Regions from separate parts of the Homo sapiens genome. Here region 1 is linked to region 2. A link means that fine-mapping ties the variant in region 2 to the expression of a gene that starts in the linked region. Tissue or cell type: whole blood. Region 2 holds a variant in brackets; the other region holds the start of a gene. All regions are shown on one strand. Distances are between the middles of the regions. Region 1 holds the start of MTHFD1 (methylenetetrahydrofolate dehydrogenase, cyclohydrolase and formyltetrahydrofolate synthetase 1). Region 2 overlaps ESR2 (estrogen receptor 2).

The links.
Region 1: it holds the start of MTHFD1, and the variant in region 2 is fine-mapped to the expression of MTHFD1 in whole blood (TOPMed, PIP above 0.99).

What each region holds. Positions count from the first base shown.
Region 1 is chr14:64,385,492-64,390,873 of GRCh38, forward strand. It overlaps MTHFD1 (methylenetetrahydrofolate dehydrogenase, cyclohydrolase and formyltetrahydrofolate synthetase 1), which reads left to right and starts at 2,862. Exons shown (of 28, transcript NM_005956.4): 1 at 2,862-2,977. The coding sequence starts at 2,937. RefSeq lists enhancers at 1,925-2,024, 2,045-2,104, 2,625-2,714.
Region 2 is chr14:64,287,890-64,293,271 of GRCh38, forward strand. The region is part of intron 1 of ESR2 (estrogen receptor 2); the gene reads right to left. Among named protein-coding and RNA genes, the nearest start is that of ESR2, 3.8 kb to the right of the region's middle. The variant T/C (reference allele first, on the strand shown) is at 2,536.

The DNA of each region.
Region 1 (5,382 bases), 98 kb after region 2:
GTCCTCTCTCTACCTACAATACCCTTGGTTGGATCTCATTCAATCCCATGGATTTAAATATCTTCTCTCCATTTGGATGTCTAAGAGAAATCTAAAAATGTCTAAAGCCGAATTCATAATCTTAACCCCAAAACCTAGTCCTACATTTTACTTTATTTCAACTCAGCGAATGGCAATTCCATCTTTCCAGTTGCTCAGAGCAAATCCCTGCTTTCTTTCTTTTACATTCCAAGTTCCTCTCTTCATTAAGGTTTCTGCTGAAGTCAGATGCCCAAAGAAATCTCTTACCACATTTCTGAGACAAAACTTTCCCACCTCCCAGCATCACTGCCTATCCTCTTAGCTTGCCTATTTTTAAAATATAGCATGTCATAATCTCTAAAATTAGCCTATGTATTTCTTTAACTTGATCGTTGTCTCCTCCACCAGAATATGAGCTGAGAGCAGAAACTTTGCTGGTTCACTAGGGTATCTCTAGCATCTATAGCAGTGCTGTTGGCATAGTGGCCACTCAATAATTATTTGCTCCATGAATGAACGATTTATGCAACTCATACATAGATAACTGTCAAAAACCAGGCTGTTGAGATGGCAAAGGCAGTAGATTTAGAGAAGAAACATCAGGTTTGGGGCCTATACCAGCCACAGCTATGCAGCTTTGGGTATTATCCTTCAAAGTCTATCCCTCTGTAAAACGGGATTTCTGCCATCTTCCTCAACAAATAAGAAAGCTGGAATAGTCAATACCTATTTGATAGTATAAGACAAAAGATTCACTATCTGCAATTTACCAGAAACATTTCCTTCAATTTTCTTCTTAATTTCACTTGTTTAGGTACAACACAATATGAGACAATGTGTTTTAGGGTTATTATTATAATGACATTATATTACTAAGTCTGTGCCTTTAACATATCACTTGTGCAAACTTTAAGAATAGTAACTTTAAGGCCACGCACGGTGGCTCATGCCCATTATCCCAGCATTTTGGGAGGCCAAGGGAGACTAATCCCTTGAGATCTAGACCAGTCTGGTCAACATAGTGAAACCCCAACTCTACCAAAAATAGAAAAATTAGCCGGCGTGGTGGCATGCACCTGTGGTCCAAGCTACTCGGGGGGCTGAGGTGGGAGGATCATTTGAACCCGGGAGGCAGAGGCTACAAAGAGCGGAGATCATGCCACTGCACTCCACCCTGAGCGACATAGCGAGACTCCGTCTCAAAAACAAAAAAACATATATTAGAAATAATTACCAGAAATAGAAAATCACAAGAGATTATCTAATCCCGTATATGGGGCTACTATAAATAACCTCAGAATTTAGAAATAAGAAAAAAATATTAAAAGCCCCAAAATTAATAAAAAATCAGTTTTAGGCCAGGTGCGGTGGCTCACGCCTGTAATCCCAGCACTCTGGGAGGCCGAGGCGGGTGGATCACGAGGTCAGGAGTTCAAGACCAGCCTAGCCAAGATGGTGAAACCCCGTCTCTACTAAAAATACAAAAATTAGCCGGGCGTGGTGGCGGGCTAATTAGGTGGTGCCTGTAATCCCAGCTACTCGGGAGGCTGAGGCAGAGAACTGCTTGAACCCGGGAAGCGGAGGTTGCAGTGAGCCAAAATCGTGCCACTGCACTCCAGCCTGGGCGACAGAATGAGACTCCGTCTCAAACAAACAAACAAAAAAAGTTTTAGATGAGCTCTGCCAGTAGTAAACGGCTTGTAAAAGAAACCCGGTATCTGGTCAAGTCCTAAGTGACCTGAACCACGCATCTTCAGGACTCTACTGGGATGACTGTAACCTGAACGCGGTTCCTAGAGCAGAGCAAGCATATTCCTTGGACTCAGTAACACAAGGGGCCAGTCCTCTCCAGCATCCCAGCTGCCACCGCCCTGTCAGGCTCCCCAGGCAATTGTCCATCTTACTCCTTCTCCAGCGTGGACGCTTAAGGGGAGGGAGCATCCCTCCTCGAGGGTCAACTGGCATGTAGCTTACGAAGACCGCGTGAGTTCTCCAACCCCAGACTTGCTGCGGGGCGGGGACGTGGGGGTGACAAAATCCAGACTACGACCCTCCATGAGCCCTGGCAACCCCGGGGTGACCCCAACACCGATGAGGCCACGCGCGCTCCAGCTCTGACACTCCTTCCAGATCGGCGGGGCCTGAAACAGCGGGCTAAGCTTCACCTACGGCTGAGCGTCAGATTCAGCTGAGGAGATTCTAAAAGCGCTATGCTGGGCCCAGACCCAGGCCCTCCAGAGCAGAACGCGGAGGGGCCCGACCCCAGTCTGGTGGCGTAGGTGTGTGACAAAGTATGAGGGCGCGCCAAGCTCTCCAGTTCCACATCTGCTGTCGAGTCCAGCGCCTGCCACGCTCCCGTGCGGGGACCCGCCCAAAACTCCCTGGAAGCCAGGCGATTCAGACCCCGCCACCGCGTCCCCAGAGACTGGGCGGAAACCGGAGACTCGCCTCCCGAACCCGCGAAACTATCTCCCGCGAGACTGCCCCGCCCCAACCCCGCCCCGCAACTCTACTCCCTGATTGGCTGGAATTACGGCCGGATTCCGGAGTCCTTTCCAGCTCCCTCTTCGGCCGGGTTTCCCGCCGAATACAAAGGCGCACTGTGAACTGGCTCTTTCTTTCCGCCAATCATTTCCGCCAGCCATTCATCACCGATTTTCTTCATCTTCCCCTCCCTCTTCCGTCCCGCAGTCCCCGACCTGTTAGCTCTCGGTTAGTTAAGGGACTCGGGTCCTTCCGAACTGCGCATGCGCCACCGCGTCTGCAGGGGGAGAAGCGGGCAGGGGCGCAGGCGCAGTAGTGTGATCCCCTGGCCAGTCCCTAAGCACGTGGGTTGGGTTGTCCTGCTTGGCTGCGGAGGGAGTGGAACCTCGATATTGGTGGTGTCCATCGTGGGCAGCGGACTAATAAAGGCCATGGCGCCAGCAGAAATCCTGAACGGGAAGGAGATCTCCGCGTAAGCACCTGACATTGTTGTTGAGTGTGGGGCTGTGGACGAGGGCTCTGAGGGTGTGCAGGTCCCCCGGACCCATTTTTTGCGGGAGGGACACTTGTAGCGGAAGAGTTAGGCCCATAACACCTGAAGACCTGCAGCCAAAGAAAGAGAACCCGGGCACAACCTGCGTTTGCAAGTGGACTGCCTAGTGGCTGTAGCCGCTGGCTCCTGTGCTTCGGGGAAAAGTCCTGTGCCGACTATGCTCCCAAACGCGCAGCTGCTGGTGACTTTCTGCCGGGAGAGTGGGTAGTTGCGGCTTCCTGGAGCCCCCCTAGTCAGAACTCAGAAATCCAATCTACTTAATTCCCGTTAATTTGGAGGTGAGTAGATGGAGACTAGTGAGGTGACAAGGCTTGACAAGACTACAAGGCTGATAATGACAGAGGGTCCTTCCAGCTCATAGCTTTTCCCACTATACCATAGTCTTATCATACGCTAAGTGAAATCTAATACATTTTTCCTTTCTCTTCAATCTCGTGCTTCTCTCTAACAGCCATCTCTCTGCCCTGGTCCTAGAGTTACTTGAAACGTAATTTGGCTCCTGAGTCCTGAGAATATTCTGCATTCCACTTGACCTCTGCCTGTTCTACCCTTGCGGGACATCTGAATGCTTAATTAGTGGGTATCGTTGCCAGCTTTACTCCCAGGAAGTAACACTGGCTGCTTTTTGTCTGGGAGGTGACTGGTGAGGAAAAATGAGAGTAGAAGGAAGAGGGAAAAATATATTCCCTCTAGTAGATGAAGGAGGGAAAGATATATTCTGTGTGACCTTACTGAGTTTGCTCTTGGGACCTTTCACATCACCCGTTATGTAAGTAACTGTTGCCAGCCACAGCAGTTACTAAATTGTAATTGTCCTGTAACTCCTAACTTTGTAATAGGTTTTTGAGTGAATTACAAAGTCATCGGTGGTGAAAAGTCCGGGCCCAGTGGCTCATGCCTGTAATCCCAGCACTTTGGGAGGCCGAGGTGGGTGGATCACCTGAGGTCTGGAGTTCAAGACCAGCCTATCCAAAATGGTGAAACCCCATCTCTACTAAAAATACAAAAAATTAGCCGAGTGTGGTGGCAGGCATCTGTAATCCCAGCTACTTGGGAGGCTGAGGCAGGAGAATCACTTGAACCTGGGGGGCAGAGGTTGCAGTGAGCTGAGATGCGCCATTGCACTCCAGCCTGGGCAACAAGAGCGAAACTCCGTCTAAGAAAAAAAAAAAAAGAAATCACAATACTTACTGCTTAGTGCTTTTCAACATGTGGCTTGCTAAACTGTATTTCTGCTTTACTTTCTGTTTTTGTTTGCTTGTATTCAAACTTACTTCCTTTTCCAGTGGCTTTTTGTTTTAATATAAAAATCTTCCTTTTAGAAAGACTGATTGTGAAGAGATAATTTAGTGCATAATAATAGTGCAGATAATTTAGTACAATAATAATGCATCTGGGCCAGTACTGAGAATAGGTGCTCACTGAATATACTTTCGTTAATTGGAGAGCAAATTAAATATGTTTATCAACTCCATAAGGGCAAATACATGTATTGTCTTATTTTTGTCTATATCCTAAACACCTGGAAACCCTGTTTCCTGCCTTACTACTTGTGTGGTTTTAAGCAAATTAATTAACCTTTCTGTGCCAAAGTTTCCTCAAATGTTAAGTAAAAGTAATGTCTAGGTCATTGGGATGTTAGTAGAATTAAATGGGTTCCTAACAGATGATCATTTATAATTCTTCCTGGCACATAATAAGTATTCGATATATGTTGTATTAATAATCAGTAATTAGTTAATGTATATATGAATGATTCATTATCTTTTTTTTTTTTTACATGGTAGCTGCTGCCTTGAGATCTATTTTTTTTTTTGAGATGAAGTCTTGCTGTGTCCAATCTTGGCTCACTGCAACCTCTGCCTCCTGCATACAAGCAATTCTCTCATATCAGCCTCCTGAGTACCTGGGATTACAGGTGCCCGCCATCACGCCTAGCTAATTTTTTTTTTTGAGATGGAGTTTCACTCGTCGCCCAGACTGGAGTACAATGGCGTGATCTCGGCTCACTGCAACCTCTGCCTCCTGGGTTCAAGCGATTCTCCTGCCTCAGCCTCCCAAGTAGCTGGGATTACAGGCGTCCGCCACCATGTCCAGCTAGTTTGTTTGTTTGTTTGAGACAGAGTTTCACTCTTGTTGCCCAGGCTGGAGTGCAATGGCATGATCTTGGCTCACTGCAACCTCCACCTCCCAGGTTCAAGCGATTCTCCTGCCTCAGCCTCCCGAGTAGCTGAGACTACAGGTGTGTGCCACCCCGTCCGGCTAATTTTTGTATTTTTAGTAGAGACGGGCTTTCACCATGTTGGTCAGGCTGGTCTGTAACT
Region 2 (5,382 bases):
TTCTGGTACAACAGGAAAAAATTGTCTCTAAAGAGTTTAATTGTTGGGCCTGGCATGGAATTTCACCTGGCCAACCAAAGAACCAGTACCCAGACATCCTGATTCTAAGAATTATTCATTTATTTGCATGTCAATTTTCTTTAGTCACCATAACCTAAAATAGTTGGTCCATATCCTGGGTGGTGAACAGGCTTTGTTTTCTGTCCAGAGACCTCTCTCTCTCTCCCAGCACACACCCCTGTATTTGGCCCTCTCAGGTCACATCTGAATTCAGCCAGAAAGCTTTTTGTACACATGGGATCGTGCATGGTGTTCTAATGTACTGGCTGGGAAACATACTATGGCTTTTGAATTAAAAGAAAAAAGTAGTATTTAAAATTCCCAATTTTGACAATGATTCATGGACAAGAAAAAGTTTGGCCCTAGAAATGGCAGAAAAACACTCCAAAAAGACTACACTTTTTTTTTTTTTTTTTTGAGATGGAGTCTTGCTCTGTTGCCCAGGCTGGAGTGCAGTGGTGCAATCTTGGCTCACTGCAAGCTCCACCTCCCGGGTTCAGCCATTCTCCTGCCTCAGCCTCTCAAGTAGCTGGGACTACAGGTGCCCGCCACCATGCCCAGCTAATTTTTTCTATTTTTTAGTAGAGACGGGGTTTCACCATGTTAGCCAGGATGGTCTTGATCTCTTGACCTCGTGACCCGCCCGCCTTGGGCTCCCAAAGTGCTGGGATTACAGGCATGAGCCACCGTGCCAGCCAAGACTAGACTGGTTTTTATCAAAGCACCTGTAAATCTAGTTAATAAGAAATCAGTCACCCGGGCGCGGGTGGCTCATGCCTGTAATCCCAGCACTTTGAGAGGCCAAGGTGGGCAGATCACCTGAAATCAGGAGTTCGGGACCAGCCTGGCCAACATGGAGAAACCCAGTCTCTACTAAAAATACAAAATTAGCCGGGTGTGGCAGCGCTTGCCTGTAAACCCAGCTACTCAGAAGGCTGAGGCAGGAGAATCGCTTGAACCCAGGAGGTGGAGGTTGCGGTGAGCCGAGATCACGCCACTGCACTCCAACCTAGGTGACAAGAGCAAAACTCTGTCTCAAAAAAAAAAAAAAAAAAAAGGTCAGCCACCATCAAGCCTGTTCTTATGTATATTCTATCAATGGATAGAGCAGAACATTCATTCTAGCCCCAGCTCTGCCTGAAAGCCAGGCAATCTTAGACAAATCCACAAACTCCCTGAGCTGCCACATCTTCTTCAGTAGAATCAGGTACCTATTTGGTGCTGTACCTTTTCACGGTGCTCTGAGGGTGAAATGAGATGATGTCTGTGAAAGGATTCTGAGGCCGGGCGCAGTGGCTCACGCCTGTAACCCCAGCACTTTGGGAGGCCAAGGTGGGCAGATCACCTGAGGTCGGGAGTTTGAGACCAGCCTAACCAACATGGAGAAACCCCGTCTCTACTAAAAATACAAAATTAGCCGGGCATGGTGGCACATGCCTGTAATCCCAGCTACTCGGGAGGATGAGGCAGGACAATCGCTTGAACCTGGGAGGTGGAGGTTGCAGTGAGCTGAGATTGTGCCATTACACTCCAGCCTGGGCAACAAGAGCAAAACTTCATTTCAAAAAAAATAAAGAAAAAGAAAAAGAAAAAAAAAAAGAAAGCATTCTGTAAGGTATTATTACACATCCAAGAAGATGAAGCCAGTCTATTGGTATATCACTGGATACACATTTAGTGTTGGTTGGAATTTCCAGACAAGTTACAATGTCTTTATGGCCACCCTGAAGATTTTTGCCTCCTAATTTTACTTTTTGACTTCTGTCCACAGAAATCCATCACCCCTAGTCCAGATAGCTGGGCTGCTGGTAGCCTGCCAACACTGTGTGTGTGGACAAAATGCCACATATTCCTGATGCCATATTCTCAAGCTTGCAGACTAGGAGGATAAGTCTAGGAGGATAAGAATAGAGGATAAGTCCTCATCCCTATTCTTCTTCCACCTGCCCATCACACTTTCCCAAGCATTCAGTTCAAATGCTCCACATTTGTGTGTCCTGCAGAAGTAAAAAATTCACGCTCACAAAGCAGCAACTAGAAGGAATTTCATGGAAAAGATTTAAAAAGATTTCTTAAGCAACAAGCATCCTTGATGTGCATAAGTAGCTGTTTGACAATTATTAGCTTTTTTGGGGGGTGGGGGTTATACTCTAGCTCTGTAACTCAGGCTAGAGTGTAGTGGCAAGATCATGGCCTACTGCAGCCTTGATCTCCTGGGCTCAAGGGATCCTCCAAACTCAGCCCCCCAAGTAGCTGGGACTAAAGGCATGCACCATCATGCCCAGCTGATTTTTAAATTTTTGTAGAGATAGGGTCTCACTGTGTTGCCCAGATTGATCTTGAACTCCTTGCCTCAAGCAATCCTCCCACCTCGGCCTCCCAAAGTGCTGTGATCACAGGCATGAACCACCACACCTGGCCAATTATTATCTTTAAATGTATTCTTATTTATTTATTTATTTATTTATTTAGAGA[T/C]AGAGTTTTGCTTTGTTGCCCAGGCTGGAATGCAGTGGCATGATCGCGGCTCACTGTAAACTCGGCCTCCCAGGTTCAAGCAATTCTCATGCCTCAGCCTCCTGAGTAGCTGGGACTACAGGCTTGAGCCACCATGGCCAGCTAATTTTTTGTATTCTTAACAGAGACAAGGTTTCATTATTTGGCCAGGCTGGTCTTGAACTCCTGCCCTCAAGTGATCCAGCCACCTAGGCCTCCCAAAGTGCTGAGATTACAGGCGTGAGCCACCACACCCAGCCTTTTTAAATATATTCTTTCAAAACAAAATATTAAGGCCCTCAATTAATTTAATATTAGGAAGATAAAACACTCCAAAATCACCAGAGAACTCATCATTAATAACTGATTTGCATGTAATTCTTAAGAACATGTACATAAGGAAACCCTGTTTCCTTCTAAAATGAGGAAAAGCTAATTCTCCTAGTAACCAATTGGCGCTTATTTAGTTGGATAGGAAAGAGTTTCAAGGGTTTGAATAGGGTAGGAGGACCAAGCCTCGAAGGCAGGGGTGGGAGAGAGTTCATCAGTCTTCTCAAGTGTCTTCTCTCTCAACAGCAAGTTTCTGCTCTTCCCTAACACCAACAACAGCCACAGACCATGCTCTGTAGGAACTGGACCAAATTCAAATATTCATTTGGGACAGGGTCAGAGAGAATTCCGAGTGAAGGGATTCAAGATGACACAGCCAATCCAGAAGTTAGGCTGAATGCACTCAACTCCCCTTCCAGGCCTGGGTTTGACAGTAGAACACACAACAATTTACTAACAAAATGCTGCAGTCTGGCTTTGAGGAAACATATACAAGTCCAGCAATCTATCTTTCTAGGTCACCCTAACTCTCCTGCCCTCTCTCAAGTACACCCACACAAAGATTCTCCACTAAAAGCCCTTCATTTTCAAGACCTGTCATAATTCCAGCTAGGAAGGCCAACTATCCAGTTTGCTAGCTCCTCATAAACTTGCCACTCTGCATATCCTAGTTACTACCACTGTAACTGGGTATGCAAGGTAAGTTACATATTTAAAATACAGGCTGTTTTTCATAGAACAAAGGAAAAAGGAAAAAGACATCAATTTTATATATATATATGTTAGCAGTACCTACCAATAACAGGCTCCTAACTGTATACTGAATTGAATACTGTGTTAAACAGTGAAAAATATTAGTTTACAAAAGGTTATACATCTCCACCCTGCAGGAAAATCTAGACTTCAAGACATGAGCACAGAAATTTAAAAATCCTGACATCTACAAATAAGTTGGACACAGACCTAAGCCCCTATGAAGATAAATATTTTACCTTCAGCAATTGTAATCACTCTGCATTTTAAATGTCTTCAATTTGTCATTTTCAATCCCTGTTTTGCTTCTCACTATTTGATAATATGCAATTTCAGGTAGCTTTCTTAATCTCAGGTATAATGAAAAGTAGTTTTTTTTTTAATAAAGAAGTTTTAAAATTCAAAGATTATAAAAGAATGATGCATTCTATTAATATGATATAAATAACTTTTAATGGCCTTGTATTTCAATTCAGGATAACTAATGATATATGCCATAACCAAAGGCTTAAACCACAATAGAATCTAAATCTGCTAAGAACTAAATCTATTAGCCCTATATGAATTTAACACTTAGTCCAAGTCTCAAGTTTCCCATTTGCAAATAGCATTGTCTTTGCCTTGATTTATCCCAAGGTACTAGAATTAAAAATAGCACAAACTGACTCATCCTATAAAAAGGGAAAAACAGGTTTTTCTTTCAAAAGAAGTAAAGGAAAATATGTCTAAGTAAAAACGTACTAAAGAGCAAAACCACATAATCATTATGTAGTTTTGATCAGTGATTTTCAGGGGCAGTGGGGTAGGTAGAGGTACAAAGGGGACTTTTGGGGTAATGGAACTGTTCTGTGTCATGTGTGCGGTGCTGGTTACATGACTGTGCATCTGTCAGAATTCATAGAGGTACATTTACAGAGGCTAAATTTTACTGTATGTAAATTATACTGCTGTAGCCTAATTTTTTTAAAGTGCTATTGCATATAAAACAATGTGCTAGACACTGAATTATGAAATCTAACGTTCAAGCATACAATTCTCAAGGTTTCTAGATGTATTATCAAAAACTTATCATTAAACACTTTGAGTTCAGCCTTCAGTATTTTATATTTTATCCATATTTATATTCTATAAAACGACTCAAAGCATCACCTAAAATTATCACATGAATTTTGAATTATTATGTGTTCAACATACACTTATAGAAAATTTCCTTCTTATTCTTAAAAGTGAACATATCAATATCTATTAAATGTTAATTATATGGTTATGAGTTGAATTTACTACTAAATTCTACCTTTTCTGAATTATAAATACATTAAGAAATGTAAACTGTGATTAGATTTATTCACATCCCTCAGAACACTACGAAATGTGTCCTAAACATGTTAATTGATTTCAGAAACTTCTATGTCTTGAGCAAGACTTAAGTGTTAACAAGCATCTGATGGCTTTTAAAATAAGAATGTTTCAGAAATTCATCTAAAAAAATGCTTGAACGTAAAATGCAATCCTACGGTGTATACTCTAATGCCTGTTGATGAACAGATCCTTATAGTTTCCTTCTTCTAGAACTCATATCAAAATACATTTTCTTCAGAAAAAATAGGAGTCAAAGATGTTAATCATGTTCTTTTCATAGTCACGTTACATTTGTTTTACAACACTCTCAGAAAAGCCTTTCCTTTCACATGTTCACTTTTTAAATTACAAACATGTTTCCCCTCACTAGACACCGAGTTACGAAAC